Linked DNA regions of Homo sapiens. The protein of the gene in region 1 purifies or fractionates together with the protein of each later gene. This does not show direct contact. Each region holds a gene or a part of one and is shown in the gene's direction. Other genes may lie near its edges.

Region 1 (4,150 bases):
TGGTGACTATGCTAGTTTACACTGCTTTAATTTAGGCTGAAAAGTAGAGGATCTAGATATGTCTACTACTCAGAAAAGAAAGGGAGAAAGCACACAGCACAAATAAGGCATCAGTATTTACTTCAAAGATCAACATTAGGTGGAATTAATAAGTAATTTATTTGTTAATAATGGCGTAATTAGTGTACCCATCAAATTTCAATTACCAAATAGCAGGCAACAGTCTCCTCTCCCTCCTTTCCGGAGCTTCTGATATCGTTAATACGCTAATTTTCAGCAATTCAGAAATTATAGACTGTCCTGCAAATATAACTCTAGCCTCAGATACTGCCTGAGAAAGCAGGATCTAAAAGAGAAAACATGAAATTCTTAGCTGGAAAAGACCCATCAGCGATCAGACCCGGCAAGGTGTTTATTCTACCCTTAGCTTGTTTTTGTTTGGGGATAGTTCTGAAATAGGAAGTTATTGTTTTCAAAGCTCGGTTCTGTGGAGGTGTTGCTTCTATCCATTCCCATCCTTGGGCCACCTTCTCTCTCACAATCGCACCTAGTAAATGCGGGCATATTTAGCTCTCACATCGACAACCCCCGTCAAATTAGATGCTATTACGAAGGTTCCAATTTTTCTTAGGAAAACACGAAACAGATTGTCTCTGAAAGAAGGAAAAAATGAAAAGTGTCCATCCAGTTATAATGGAATGGCCTCGATTTACATCCTTGGGTCGATTTCTCTTAGCTGCCCGCCCACCCTTTGCAGCTTCTGCCAAGCTTCTCAAAGCAAGGGCTCTCAGGCTGACACGCAAGGAGCAGGGTGTGGGGAAGGGGGATCTGCGGTTGAGAAAATGTGTCTGGTGGCCTCTCAGTGGCGTACATAAAAACCAGGATGCCCCTCGGTCCCAACGCCCTTCCTTTCGCCTGTTAGCCTAGAACCCCTGAAGGACACGAAGCCTGACTGGGTTGCGCCCGAGGTCAGCGCTGAGTCGCGGCCGCCAGACAGCCCGAGGCCTAGGCCAGCAGTAGGGCAGGCAGAGGGCTCCCGAGAGGACCTACAGCCTGACAGGGCCTGAATTCCCAGCGGGAACCAAAGCTGGGGGGCTGGGGTCCAAAGCTCCTGCTCCCTCCCCCAGCCCAGGGGCCGGACAGCAGCATCCATCACGCACCCGCGCGTTTCCTGATCCGGGTCCGCGCGCGCGGTGCGCCCATTGGTGGGGGCGCTGCACGTGGGGCACGGGGCGGGGCGCGCGCTGGGCTGGGGAGGAGCGGCTCGAACTTTGGTGGCGGCGTCTGCGGGAGGGGGAGGAGTGGGCACTTGACAGCGGGGGGAGGGGAAGGGCGCAGAGGAAAGGGGGATGGGAAGCGAGGCAGGAGGGGGAGGGGCCTCGGCAAGCCCAGAAAAAACGACAACGCGAGAAAAATTAGTATTTTTGCACTTCACAAATTAATGACCATGAGCTCGTTTTTGATAAACTCCAACTACATCGAGCCCAAGTTCCCTCCCTTCGAGGAGTACGCGCAGCACAGCGGCTCGGGCGGCGCAGACGGCGGCCCGGGCGGGGGCCCCGGCTACCAGCAGCCCCCAGCGCCCCCGACCCAGCACCTGCCGCTGCAGCAGCCCCAGCTCCCTCACGCGGGCGGCGGCCGAGAGCCCACTGCCTCCTACTACGCGCCGCGGACCGCCCGCGAGCCCGCCTACCCTGCTGCCGCGCTGTACCCCGCGCATGGGGCCGCGGACACCGCCTACCCCTATGGCTACCGCGGCGGCGCCAGCCCCGGGCGGCCGCCCCAGCCCGAGCAGCCCCCGGCGCAAGCCAAGGGCCCAGCGCACGGCCTGCATGCGAGCCACGTCCTGCAGCCCCAGCTGCCGCCGCCCCTGCAGCCTCGCGCCGTGCCCCCAGCGGCCCCGCGGCGCTGCGAGGCGGCCCCCGCCACCCCAGGCGTCCCGGCAGGGGGCAGCGCCCCCGCGTGCCCGCTGCTCTTGGCCGACAAGAGCCCGCTGGGCCTGAAGGGCAAGGAGCCCGTGGTGTACCCCTGGATGAAGAAGATCCATGTCAGCGCCGGTACGTGGCGCCGCTTGGGAGGCGCGGGAGGTGGGCCGGGGCTGGGCCTGGGTTCGAGGGTCGGGGTCAGGAGGGAGAGGCTCAGGGGAAGGGGGCCTCGGGAGGGGAGCCCCCATCTGACCCGGGCTGCGGTGAGATGTGGGTATGTGCGCGCCAGCCAGCCGCCTGATCCCAACATGAGAACCCTTTTGTACCCAGGGTCCCTTTATCAGGAGATTTACGAGACGCCAAACTGTTAGGGCAGTAATTATAGCCCCCATAAATTTAATTGCCCTGGCAGAGGCTTCAGGCCATGTGTCTTTGAAGCTTTTCTTCAGCCCCAATGCCCAGCACCATTCTTTATGGCTCTCGGGTGTTTCCCGTTGTCAATAGCCTGTGAAACATTTTCTTTGCCGTTTTATGTATCTTGCGTGAACTTGGTGTCAGGTTATTATATAATGATGATGTCCAATTGCTCTTCCCCACCCCACCTTCTCTCTCCTCCTCCTTTCCCTCTCTTCCGCTCCCTCCTCCTTGGCCTTCTATTTCGGGGTTCTGGGTTTTCAGTTAACCCCAGTTATAACGGAGGGGAGCCTAAGCGCTCTCGAACCGCCTACACCCGGCAGCAGGTCTTGGAGCTGGAGAAGGAGTTCCACTTCAATCGATACCTGACCCGGCGGCGCCGCATCGAGATCGCCCACACGCTCTGTTTGTCTGAGCGCCAGGTCAAGATCTGGTTTCAGAACCGGAGGATGAAGTGGAAGAAAGACCACAAACTGCCCAACACCAAGATGCGATCCTCCAATTCGGCCTCGGCCTCTGCCGGCCCACCAGGGAAAGCACAAACTCAGAGCCCACACCTCCATCCCCACCCCCACCCGAGCACCTCCACACCCGTTCCCTCCTCCATATAATCTTCTAGAGATCTTAACCAGTTTCTATCCCTTACCTGCTTTTCTCTTCTCTTCTCCTGCTCCGTTCCTCATCCACCCCTCCCCATCTGGACCATAATAGACACCAAAACAAACCCAAATTGGTGAAAAGAATAATCAAAAAGAAGACATTATCCGGTTAAGAGTCTGTGCTGGTTGCCACCCAAGAGAGAACAGTTGTCCAGGATGCTGGCTGGTGGAACAACCTGCTGGCCCGAAACAAGGCTGCCAGGTGTGGATACCTGAGAAGGACTACTTGGTATCAAATACTTTTGAGATGGCTACAGTCAGCTAGCTGGACAGCCCATGCTGAGTGGGGACATACACTTGCATCTTTGTTGAAAGCAGAAGAAGACAGACCCTTTCCCCACCTTCCTTACCTCCTCTTCCCCCATTAAGGCAGCTCATCCAAGCTTGTATTTAACTGAATAAATGAGTAGACATTGTGGACCTCACAAGATTATTTAATTCTTAAGATGTGTAGACCTTGATGGTAGGTGTGACATGTTAGTTTTTCTTACTTGCATTTATTTAAGACACTGTTACAGAGATACTGTTGTCCCCTTCTGGGGCACGGTCTTTGGGGAGAGGGGAGTGCATTTAGACTTATGTGGAACTGTACAAATTGTGATGTGGCTACATAGAAAGCCATGTGCTAAGAATAAACTCCATTTAAAAAACATTAAAAATCTAAGATTCATGTGTTTTCTAAGCTTTTCATTAAGAAAACAAAAGTCCTCTGGATTGAGATACTTGACCTTGCATGTAAAAACCTTGTAGATAGCTTGAGCTGGATTCACTTGGATTCTGACGGCTCACATAATTTGTGTGTGAGAGTGTGTGTATGTATGTTCAACTTGAGCTGAACTCTTGTCAAGCTTGGCCTACTGTGGAAAAGTTCCAAAGAGTAGGAAGGCTCTTGAGCTCTGAGAGGGCTCCTCTTCTTCCCAAACTTGGCCAGGCTTTCAGGCTTCAAGTCTCTGTAAGGCATAGAAACGTGTCCTTCCCTGCAATGAAAGTTGAAACCATGCAGTGCTGTGGGCCCAGGAGTTTCTGCAGCTGTTCTACACACTGAACTCTGAGCACACTTGGAAAGAAGTGGTCTCTTTGGTATTTGGTATTTGTTGCACCTTCACACTTAATCTGCCTGTTTCCCAGGAGATAAAAAATAGTTTGTGCAAA
Region 2 (3,500 bases), on another chromosome or scaffold:
CTTCAGAAATGGGCCTGCATCTATGACAATAAGCAGCATCTAAAAAAGTCATAAATTGTTTCAGAAGGTGATTTAGCCTATGGAATAGTTTGATGTTGGTTATCTCTTTTGGATACTTTAGGGTAAGATGATGGCATGCAAACACTGCAGTGACATTTTCAGCAAGGAGGGTGCTTTGAAACTAGCAGCCACAGGCAGAGAGGACCAGGGAATTGAAACAGATGATGAGAAGGACTCACTTAAGAAGCAGCTGAGAGAGATGGAACTGGAACTGGCACAAACCAAACTGCAGTTGGTGGAGGCCAAGTGTAAAATTCAGGTTGGTGATTTGATAAAAGAACAAGAAGAAAGAATAAACAATTAATGGTCCAGGATACTCTAGTACTTCAGAATACACCTATCTAGGTCAGAATTGTATGATGAATACATTTTCTGTCTGCTAATGTGTCCTGCATAATCACATTTTATATCATGTATTCTTAACGCTGATATAAACAAATATATAATTTTAAATGAAATTTTAATAATTAAAATTATATCTTATGGGAATTTAATTAAGCATATGCTTGTTTTTTTTACCCTGAGATTTTTTGCTTACATCCTTTCTCACAGAATGTGGTCACTTCAGTGGCTGATCCTGAAAATGAAAAACCAAACCCCCTCTGCTGTGTCTACCCTGAGAGTCACACATTGGCTGACACCCGTTCTTTCCTTTAGAGCTTCTTTTTATCTTTAGCTCATTTTGTCAAACCTCTTTCCCCATTATCTTTCTCCATATTGGCGCATAATATAATTAGAAATAGTCCTGGCTTCTGATGGACTCTTCTTCATTTCATTTTCCCAGTGATCCCTACCAGCACCATGGCTGCCATGTCACCAGCCTCCACCACACCAGCCAGCTTCCACCATGTGTCTGCTCTGACCTTGGACATTCTTAGGGCAAAGCCTATTTCTTTGGAACTGGAATTCATTCATGCTTCTACTATCAGTAAAAATTCATCCATATGTTTACATTTATTTGTGGTTTTTAAACCTGTTATATCGGATTGCAACCTAAACCTAAATTTGGACCTAACTTGCAGGGAAAAAAAGAATAAAATGAGCTTTTCTTTCACTGTTTAAAGAAAGCACAGATTCTAGATTTTTGATAAGTCTTTTAGCTCTTAACTTTATCCTTGTACTAAGAAGCCAATTCAATCTCTCCTGGGTTTTGTGGGAGGAAAATTGGCAGCACATACCTTGAGACTCCAAAAAGCTGCACACTTTTATTTATTTATTGGCAAAGAGAAAACATTTATTTAACTCAGATGATTTTCTTGCTTTAATTAGGAACTTGAACATCAGAGAGGAGCCCTTATGAATGAAATCCAAGCTGCGAAAAACTCTTGGTTTAGCAAAACCCTGAACTCTATCAAAACGGCCACGGGCACCCAGCCATTGCAGCCAGCACCGGTCACCCAGCCACCCAAGGAGAGCACATAGTTCCAGCCTTACCCAAGCACAAGAGCACAATGTTCAAACCAATGGAAATCTGGGAGGATTCTTCCTGGTGTCCCTTTGAAGGAAAGTCAAGGAGGCCAGAAAACAAGCCAGAATTTTTCAGTAGCTCTCACTCTTTCTTGTATGACACTTTTCAAAGGGATGCTATTTAAACTGACCTGTTCTATGTTGAATACCTATTTTCCAGCTTCTGGAAGGCCATGTTCAGATCCATCATAGTATTACACATTATTTTGTTTGCCTGATGTTTAGTTGGAAATAAGTAATTCAGAACTAAATGCTTTTTTATTTAGAATTATTCATAATTATTTTTATCTTACATAAAAATGGAGACATCTGTTATTCCAAGGTTGAAGTGATAAGAAGATCTTTGTCACAGGAAAAAAAAAATTGAAACCTAAACATCTTAAGTTTTCAGGATTTATTCAGATAAAGCACACTGTGGGGCCAGGCATGACCACTCTCAGGTTTCCTCCTGAGCCTGATTCCCAGGGAAGTGTTAATCCTGTCCAAAGGAAAGAACCAATCAGCGATCATTGGTTTACTTTCATTTTCTGTTCGGTACATCTGGAAATGAAGTGCCAGGAATAGACGGGCTGTTCAGATTATACGCTAGGTAAAAGGAACTGAAATTTTAATAAGTGTAGGTCAGGATCATTTGGGCTGTGGTATTCTAACAGATCCTTTTAAGAATGCCACATAGGACTTGTGAGTTCCTAAGTACACCAAAGTATGGACACAGATGTGACTTCTGGCAATTATAAAGTTAAAGGTGGATATTGCACCTTACAGACTTAGGGAGCCTTTACCAGAGACGCCTAAAAAGCCCCAGGTTCAGCCATTGTGCTGAATAGAGTGGAATATAGAACCAGGGACAGAGTATTTCATTTAACGTTGATATATACTTGCTAAGGAAACACTAACAATACTGTAACTTTGTTAAAGGACATAGTATTGAAATGGGAAATAGAGGTCAGGCTCACATCATCTTAGTTTAATGCTGGGCAACTTTTTCTGATTTCTGTAGTTCCCTGAAAATGTGTCCTTCGTACCCATAAAGAGATACAAATGCATTTGTAACATTTTTGATTGAATATAAAACCTTTACAGAAATACTTATCTCATGGAAAGGTAAAGCTATTGTTTAAAAATTAGTGGAAATATTTTTTCAATTATATTTAACATGCCTATAAAAATAGTCCTTGCAGGAAATTATTTGATAAGAGCAAAACTATTTTTATTTTATAAACTATTTTGGAGGCCTCTGATCCTTTCAAACCAACCAAACTACTATTAGATATGTACAATAACATTTGTTGATATTAATCATTGGCCTCATTGTTGAACATATTATTTGCAAAGAATCTTAAACTCTGTAGTGCCAGAATGATTCTCATCTGTGCCATATTTTGCAATTAAAAGTAACACACCCTTAGAAGAATCAAATAAGAGCCATCTACATCCCAGGAGGATGCACCAAGTTGCTCACAGTGGATCTTTTCCTCTAAAATGATCTTTTATGTTCTAAAAAGTGAAATCCCCTTTATCTGTGTTTATATTCTCTACAGCCCATAAAACTGATGTGATTGTTATGTTATACTCATCAGATAATACTTTTCTTACATAAATCTTTCATTGTTGTTCTGACATCTTTCATTACAAAATTTATTTTCTTAACAAAAAGGAACATAACCCAGCATTCCAAGTGTCTGTGTTGGCTTTAACATTCTCTACATGGTGGTCTAGATAAGCTAATTTTTTTTTTTTTTTTTTTGTAAAATGTAATAGCTAGAAAATGTTATCTTGGCGCTTGTTTTTGTAAATCATTTAGTATAGGCTGTTAGCTTTACTGGTACTTTACGCTTTGATTCCAAGAAGCCTTGTGCAGTTGCCTTATCAAATGGCCAGCTAAATTAAAGATGCTCTTTTGTGTTGTGAATTTCATAGTTCTGTACAGAGCTTGTTTCAATTTACAAAAATAAGTACATTCCACAGAATGC
Region 3 (3,500 bases), on another chromosome or scaffold:
TGAATATAGTAGGCATATGTATAATCTAATGTTAAAATAAGTTATATAATGGGTAATAATTTTTAGATTTCTTAGATAAGTTACACATTCCCAGGATGAGGTGAACTTTCAAATATCAATTTTAAGGCTATTGATTATATTGGGAAAAATGAACAATGACTTGGATGTTAATGTGTGTGTTTTCCTTTTTTAAGGGTATGCCTTTTTCTGTGTATGGGAATGCAATGATTCCTCCAGTAGCACCTATCCCTGATGGTGCTGGAGGACCCATATTTAATGGCCCTCATGCTGCAGACCCTTCTTGGAACTCACTGATAAAGATGGTTTCCAGCTCCACGGAAAATAATGGCCCTCAAACGGTGAGGCTGATCATTCAGTGAATAAACAGTTGTTTTGTGTTTAAGAAATGCAAAGACAAATAGGATTCAGGTAACTCATGATAGCAAGAGAGTTTGGTGAATATGGGCAGTTGAGGAAATCTAATATAGCTGCAATATAGCAGAGGGCTGTGGGCAGTGGTACCAAAGGCAGGTTTGGGGCTAAAATTATGAAAGGTATTGTATATTCTACTGGGTAGCAGATAATAAATGAAAGATTTTAAGTTGCAAAGTGACTGTCATATGATTTTATACATTAAAGTTTACTAGTGGTGTGAAAAGACCATCTAAAGGTTATTTATTAAAGGTACTATAAATAACTCTGAGAATTCACATAAATGGTTGTATATTTTAGTTTAGTGTATGTTTAATATCTTTGATTTATTTTTCTTCCACAACCGTGAATCTATAAATGCTCAGGTAATGATTTTTTTTTTAAAGGTTGTAAATCAGATTCTGTTTGAGGGATAAGAGGTAGGAAAATAATAGAAAAAAGGTTTTTATCATTTTTTTCCATTAGTTCCTAGTATATTGCAAATTGAAGAGTACCTCCTTAGTTTTTTAAAAGTTTTATTTTAATAAAATATATGCTAGATATATATTTTGTAAAATGCATGCTCTATATTCATAGGTGTGGACTGGACCCTGGGCACCTCACATGAACAGTGTGCATATGAACCAGCTTGGCTGATGAGGATCAGCTTGTTAGCCTGCAGATTCCTTTTCATTTGGAGGAAATCACAAGTGGCCGAAAAAAAAAATTATGCTCCCAAATCATTCTACTGATGTGCTTGACTGAAGTGTGTAGGCTTTTTGCAGAAGATCTTACTAACTGACCTATTTTCTGTGAACATTTGTGACTGCCCATTCCCCATCATCATCCGTTTTACCTTAGTTAGCATTTTTCTTATCATTTTTCTTTTTTTCTTTCCCTCTTCCCCTTTGGACATAACTTTCTGTTGAAGCTGTTCTTTGGCTGGTTGGTTTTAGTACTGTAAACTGCTTCTGAGCAAACACGGAAATTTAGCAAAATTATGTAAACTTGATCCTGAAGTTTTAGAATGGCAAATAAATGTACAATTGTTTACATAACAGAAAAGGCTAAGCAGAAAGTAAATTTCAATATGTCAGTATAGAGGCTCTACTTTATGTAGACTTAAATTAATGTGAGATATGTACCTTCATATTCAGAAATCTGGATGTTTCCTTCATACATTAAACTATTAATAAGCATAACTTTTCTACTGGTGTAATTTAAGTATAAAGTAAAATAATGGGCATTATCATTGGATGTTTCCCCACATTGGCTTTTAAAATACCCATCTTGCTTTCTTTTTGGTTTATTTGTAGCAAGGCACATATAGAAGAAGAAATTTCTGGCTTTTCCATGTTGTTTTATTACCTTTTCTCACTTTTAAAACTAATACAGACTTATCTCCTCACTCCTTTTTCTCTCCTTACCTTTACCACTAATACCAGTAAAATTATCTTTCTGATAGTGAAAAGGTTCTGTCAAGATTTTCACTGTAATGGCTGCTACAGAGATGGACCATCTTCATCATCACCAGTGGTTTCTTCTAATTATAAAATGTTTAAACTTTCTGAGAATTTAAAAAGCCACCACTGTTCCCAGTCAGCATATACAAGCTCTTAATATTCTGTTTATTAAATAATTCAATGTACTATTTTATATTGGATGATATTGATTCTTAACATTGGCTTTTCAGTCATCAACAGTCAACATAAAAATTTCAATTTTCAGTAATTTAGTGGAAAATATCTTATTTCTTTTTTCAATTTTAAAGGCTTCCTGCTTTTTTACCCTTGTATATTATCAGTGAAAAGGATCAACAGTTAATTTGAGCCAAGTAATAAAAGAAATTCTGCATTTGTCACGAAGACAATTTATGGTAGACAGATAAATACACAGATTACAGTGTAAAGTCTCCATTTAACCTGTTTATAAAAGATACAAGGCCACACTAAACTACTCAGTGGGATTTATATATTCCATCCACTTGAAACAATAAACAGTAATGTATCCAAGAAGATTATGTGTCCTACCCTGTCTCATGGAAAAATTAATTATATGGTTGAAATGTAAAAGAAAGTAAGCATAAAAATCGAGTAATGTATATATCAATTTGTCTTCTTTTTTTTTAATTAGACATAAAATTTCACACTGGTAAAACATAAAAACTAACTAAAATTCATATAAATCACCTAGAGTTGATGATATTAACATGGTTCCTTGGTTGTCAAGTAAATCAAATGATTTCTTCCATCTGAGTAAAGAGTAAAGCCTGAGTAAAGAGTAAAAAGATGACTTCTCAAACATATCCAGAAATTTGTAAACAGTACACTCATATCTTTTAGTTTAAGAAGTGGTCTTAAAATATATAAATTTGTTTTTCCACCTATGTTTAATATGCCCAAATTTAAAGGGAGAGCTAAAAGACAGCCTACAAATAAATATAGCTATGAAATAAAATTATAGCACTTTACTAAAAAAGGGATGTAATAATGTTATTTAACGAAGTATTTTATATATGACTTGCCACTATTCTATACATAAAATTTTTTTTCTTAATTCTTTCCTGTGTTAACTAGGGTTATTTTCTATTTAAGGTAATCCTGCTGGAGAACAGATGCTATCCAATATTTATTACAACACATGAGTTGTGTTGTTTCACAATACTGAATTTCTTAGGTGAGGTATTTTATTTAAAAAGGAGGGGGAAAACTCCTATATTTTCTTGACTTCAAACCTGTGGGGCCAGGGGATATAGATTGAAATGCTCCGTATTTAGTCTTGGGGATCAGGCTTGTTTAGTACAATACCATGGTTTTAGAAGTCTGTACTAGGAACATTTTTAAAATACATTTTTTATATTTCAGATGTAATGCAGTGCACTTTTATTTGAACAATAAAAAAACCCATAACTTTTTGAGACCATGAAGGTCTTTTATTTTTTAATTTTGAAAATATGTGGTATGTGTATATGCAGACTACATCATTGTTTTAAGAAATGATTTAACTCTTGGACATTACACTTGGGTTAGTTCACACCTTAAATCCCCAAGTAGTTAATATCTCAATTATTGTATAATCAGTTTATACCA
Region 4 (3,500 bases), on another chromosome or scaffold:
GGGCAGATCACCTGAGGTCAGCAGTTTGAGACCAGCCCGGCGAATGTGGTGAAACATGTCTCTACTAAGAATACGAAAATTAGCTGGGTGTGGTCACACATGACTGTAGTCCCAGCTGCTCGGGAGGCTGAGGCAGAATTGCTTGAACCTGGGAGGCAGAGGTTGCAGTGAGCGGAGACCATGGCATTGCACTTCCGCCTGGGCAGCAGAGTGAGACTCCGTCTCAAAAAAAAAAAAAAAAAAAAAGACCATTAAACCTGATGCTTCATAAGCAAGGCAAGTTTATATAGGCTGGGAGGGAGGGTGTAGGGAATAAGAGGCATCAGAGGTGACCCATCTGGATGTACTAGGTTTGGGGCAGCCCCTGGCCTCCCTCCGATCCAGCTGGGCAGACTTGGCTCGGGGTTGGCTTAAGGATCCCATTCTTCCAGGTGTGAAGAGGCAGGCTGCGGGGGCTTGCTGCGACCTCACGTCGTGTGGTTTGGAGAAAACCTGGATCCTGCCATTCTGGAGGAGGTTGACAGAGAGCTCGCCCACTGTGATTTATGTCTAGTGGTGGGTCATGCCCTTCCCTAACCCCAGGACAGGACTGGAGTTTGTTATTTTTTCCTTCCCCCTCTCCTCTTTTCCTTCCTCCCTCCCTTGCTTCTTTCCTTCCCGCCTTCTCTCCTCCCTCCATTTCTTCCTTTCCTTCAAATGTATGTTGAGAGGTCTTTGTGGTATCCTATAGAAAAACTGAGAAACAATGAATAAGAATTTGTATTAAAATAGGAAACCATGCATGTCTTGGGCATCTCAAAGCCTCCTCCCCCAGCCCCACCAAAAACAAAGAAAAGAACATGCTATTGGTTTTTTAAATAATACATGCTTATGATTAAATTTAATTGAGAACATGCAAAAATTATCACATTATAAAGAGGAAATTAGAAATCGCCCATAGTTCTGCTATCCAGAAATAGTTACCGTTAGCAGTTTAGTATGTTTTCTTCTAGACCCAGGAGTGAGCAAACAGCAGCCTTTGGGCCACATTGGGCCTGCTACCTGTTTTTGGAAATAAAGTTTTATTGGAACTCAGCCACACTCATTCTTCCACACACTGTCTATGACTACTTTCAAACTACAAGTGGCAGAGTTGAGTACTTGTGACAGAGATTGAATGGCCTGCAAAGCCTGAAAAATTTACTGTATGGTCATTTTCAGAATAAGTTTGCCCACCTCTGGTCTAAACCTTTTCTTATGCAGATGTACACGTATTAATTAAAATTCAAAACTGAGTTCATGACATATGTTCTGTTTTGAAACTACTTTGTTCACGCAGCAGTTCACTTAGCATGTTCCATATCAATATGTCTAAATCAATATCATCTTTCAATTGACTGTATGGTGTTATATATGGATAAGGAATGATATATTTAGCTAATTCTCTACTGTAAGACATTTGGGCTATTTCAAATTTTGATAGTTTAATCAATGATATCGTGAATATCCTTAGATAGAAATCTTAGCATGCTCTTCAAATGATTTCCTTAGGACACATTTCCTAAAAGTGGGATTCATTGGACAGATTGTATGCGTATTTCAAATTTTTCTTGACACGTCTTTAAAAGCAGAGGCACTTTCTTGTGGTGCGTATTCATTCAGCCAGTATTTAAAGAATGCTTCCCAGTGTTGAGTATAGTGCCACTGTTGATGATGGATTGTTAAATGAGAAAAGCCGGTTTACAAAACAGGTCATGCTCTTCCCATCCCTGTAAAGAATGTTTATAAGCAAATATTTATAAGAGAAAACCTAAGAGGACATACATGAAAATGTTAACAGTGGTTATCTTGCGGTAAGATTATGGATGATATGTATGTTTTTTTCTTCGTATTTTCTACCTTAAACAAAAAGATAGAAAATATGTTTTAAAAAGTTATGGATCATTTGTTTAACTTTAAAAAGCAGAAACAAAACCAGAATTAACCCCAAAACATGTTGATTGAGTCACTTCTATGTCACTCTTTGCATAACTCTCCTTTTCATGTCACATATTCTTCTCGATTCTAGTGATTGATCAAAGGACACCTCTTCACTTTCCCTTGTCCCTTGGACACCCTGTTTTATCCCATCCTGTTTGGCTTTTCTCACACCTGCAACCACAGACCTGCCTGAGTTTGTGTAAGGTTTTCTGAAATAATGTTCCTTCTCCTTGTCGTCTGGCTGTTTGTTCATCTCCGTGTACTTGCCTTGTAGGTGGGCACTTCCTCTGTGGTGTACCCAGCAGCCATGTTTGCCCCCCAGGTGGCTGCCAGGGGCGTGCCAGTGGCTGAATTTAACACGGAGACCACCCCAGCTACGAACAGATTCAGGTACTGGGATACCCTGATGGGAGAGGGAGATGTGGGAGGCAGGTACAGACATGGTCATCTAAACATAGTTGACCTACTCCTCTAATTTTTAAAAAAGACATAGGGTTTGTGTTTTTTTGTTTGATCTGCAGTTGCTTTTATGGAAGAACAAAATCATTCACTGTAGACTAAGGTAGGGTAGCTCTGTCATTGTATGCGAAATTTGCCGTGGGACTTTTGTTTGTTCACATTTTGAACGCTCTTCTTGGATTCCTTAGGCTTTGCTTTCCCTTACATTTTTAAGCTAGACTTAGTGATGACCTGTAGTTGTAGGTTACCCAAATGCTCCGCAAGTAAGCCTGGGAGATGCCCTTGCAGAACCTCATCACCTGCCGTTCTTACTGGGAGGCCACCTGGCAGATACCCCTTTGGTCTAATCGCCAAGGTTATTTGTATCTGTGGCCATATTATGACACTGATCCTGCTTCCCAAGTTTGGGTGGGAAGTGTAGATTGTCATAGTATGCATTTTTAGTCTTATTCCTGGGTCTGTTTTATTTCTTCATCCATGTTCTGTCTTTTTTCTCACCCCAACTTTTTTTTGCTTTTACCTCTAATTCTTGTCCATCTAGTTAATTCCTTTTGAATAAGTTAGAATATAAATAAGTAGTAAATTAATATAAATGAATAAAATAGAAAACTTCATTGAACCATCTTGTCATTACTTTAATCAACAGTTTCCAACCTTGGCTGCATATTTTAAAAATACTGATGCCTGGGTGCCACCTCATGAAATTTCGATGTCATTGCTCTGAGTTGCAGCCCAGACATCATCATTTTGATAAGCTTCCTAGGTGATTCCTGTGTGCAGCCAGGATAGGAACCACTCTTCTAAGTCTTTGCTGGGATTTAAAAAAAAAAAAGAAAAAAGAAAGAAAAGGGGCCACAGACACTTCAGTAGGCCCCTCCTCAAGTGAGTGAACTGGCTCTGAGCCTCTTCTTTTCCATGTGTCTTTTTGATCAGCTACAGCCTGTGTTCTTGATCCATAGTTCTTCATCTGTGTGTGAGTAGTAGGAACTAAGAAGATAGCCTTAAAAAAAAATTGCCTCCTATGCAAAACTTATACTCTGAAAACTACAGAACATTATTGAAAGAAATAAGGAAGGCCTAAA

Evidence for each region. The genes of interacting proteins can lie anywhere in the genome.
Region 2: the proteins of HOXA4 (region 1) and RABGAP1L purify together in Homo sapiens (affinity purification with mass spectrometry, with the first as the bait; one large-scale study listed by BioGRID). This does not show direct contact.
Region 3: the proteins of HOXA4 (region 1) and ANKRD17 purify together in Homo sapiens (affinity purification with mass spectrometry; one large-scale study listed by BioGRID and IntAct). This does not show direct contact.
Region 4: the proteins of HOXA4 (region 1) and SIRT5 purify together in Homo sapiens (affinity purification with mass spectrometry; one large-scale study listed by BioGRID and IntAct). This does not show direct contact.

The regions. Positions count from the first base shown.
Region 1 is NC_000007.14:27,128,025-27,132,174, reverse strand, and holds HOXA4 (homeobox protein Hox-A4), read left to right. Parts: upstream 1-1,417; 5' UTR 1,418-1,441; coding exon 1,442-2,057; intron 2,058-2,603; coding exon 2,604-2,950; 3' UTR 2,951-3,650; downstream 3,651-4,150. UniProt on the Homo sapiens protein: Sequence-specific transcription factor which is part of a developmental regulatory system that provides cells with specific positional identities on the anterior-posterior axis.
Region 2 is NC_000001.11:174,988,520-174,992,019, forward strand, and holds part of RABGAP1L (rab GTPase-activating protein 1-like), read left to right. Parts: intron 1-121; coding exon 122-319; intron 320-1,329; coding exon 1,330-1,482; 3' UTR 1,483-3,500. UniProt on the Homo sapiens protein: GTP-hydrolysis activating protein (GAP) for small GTPase RAB22A, converting active RAB22A-GTP to the inactive form RAB22A-GDP. Plays a role in endocytosis and intracellular protein transport.
Region 3 is NC_000004.12:73,073,799-73,077,298, reverse strand, and holds part of ANKRD17 (ankyrin repeat domain-containing protein 17), read left to right. Parts: intron 1-194; coding exon 195-359; intron 360-1,008; coding exon 1,009-1,068; 3' UTR 1,069-3,500.
Region 4 is NC_000006.12:13,598,601-13,602,100, forward strand, and holds part of SIRT5 (NAD-dependent protein deacylase sirtuin-5, mitochondrial), read left to right. Parts: intron 1-429; exon of another isoform or gene 430-431; coding exon 432-555; exon of another isoform or gene 556-1,041; intron 1,042-2,233; coding exon 2,234-2,349; intron 2,350-2,480; coding exon of another isoform or gene 2,481-2,520; exon of another isoform or gene 2,521-3,037; intron 3,038-3,500. UniProt on the Homo sapiens protein: NAD-dependent lysine demalonylase, desuccinylase and deglutarylase that specifically removes malonyl, succinyl and glutaryl groups on target proteins.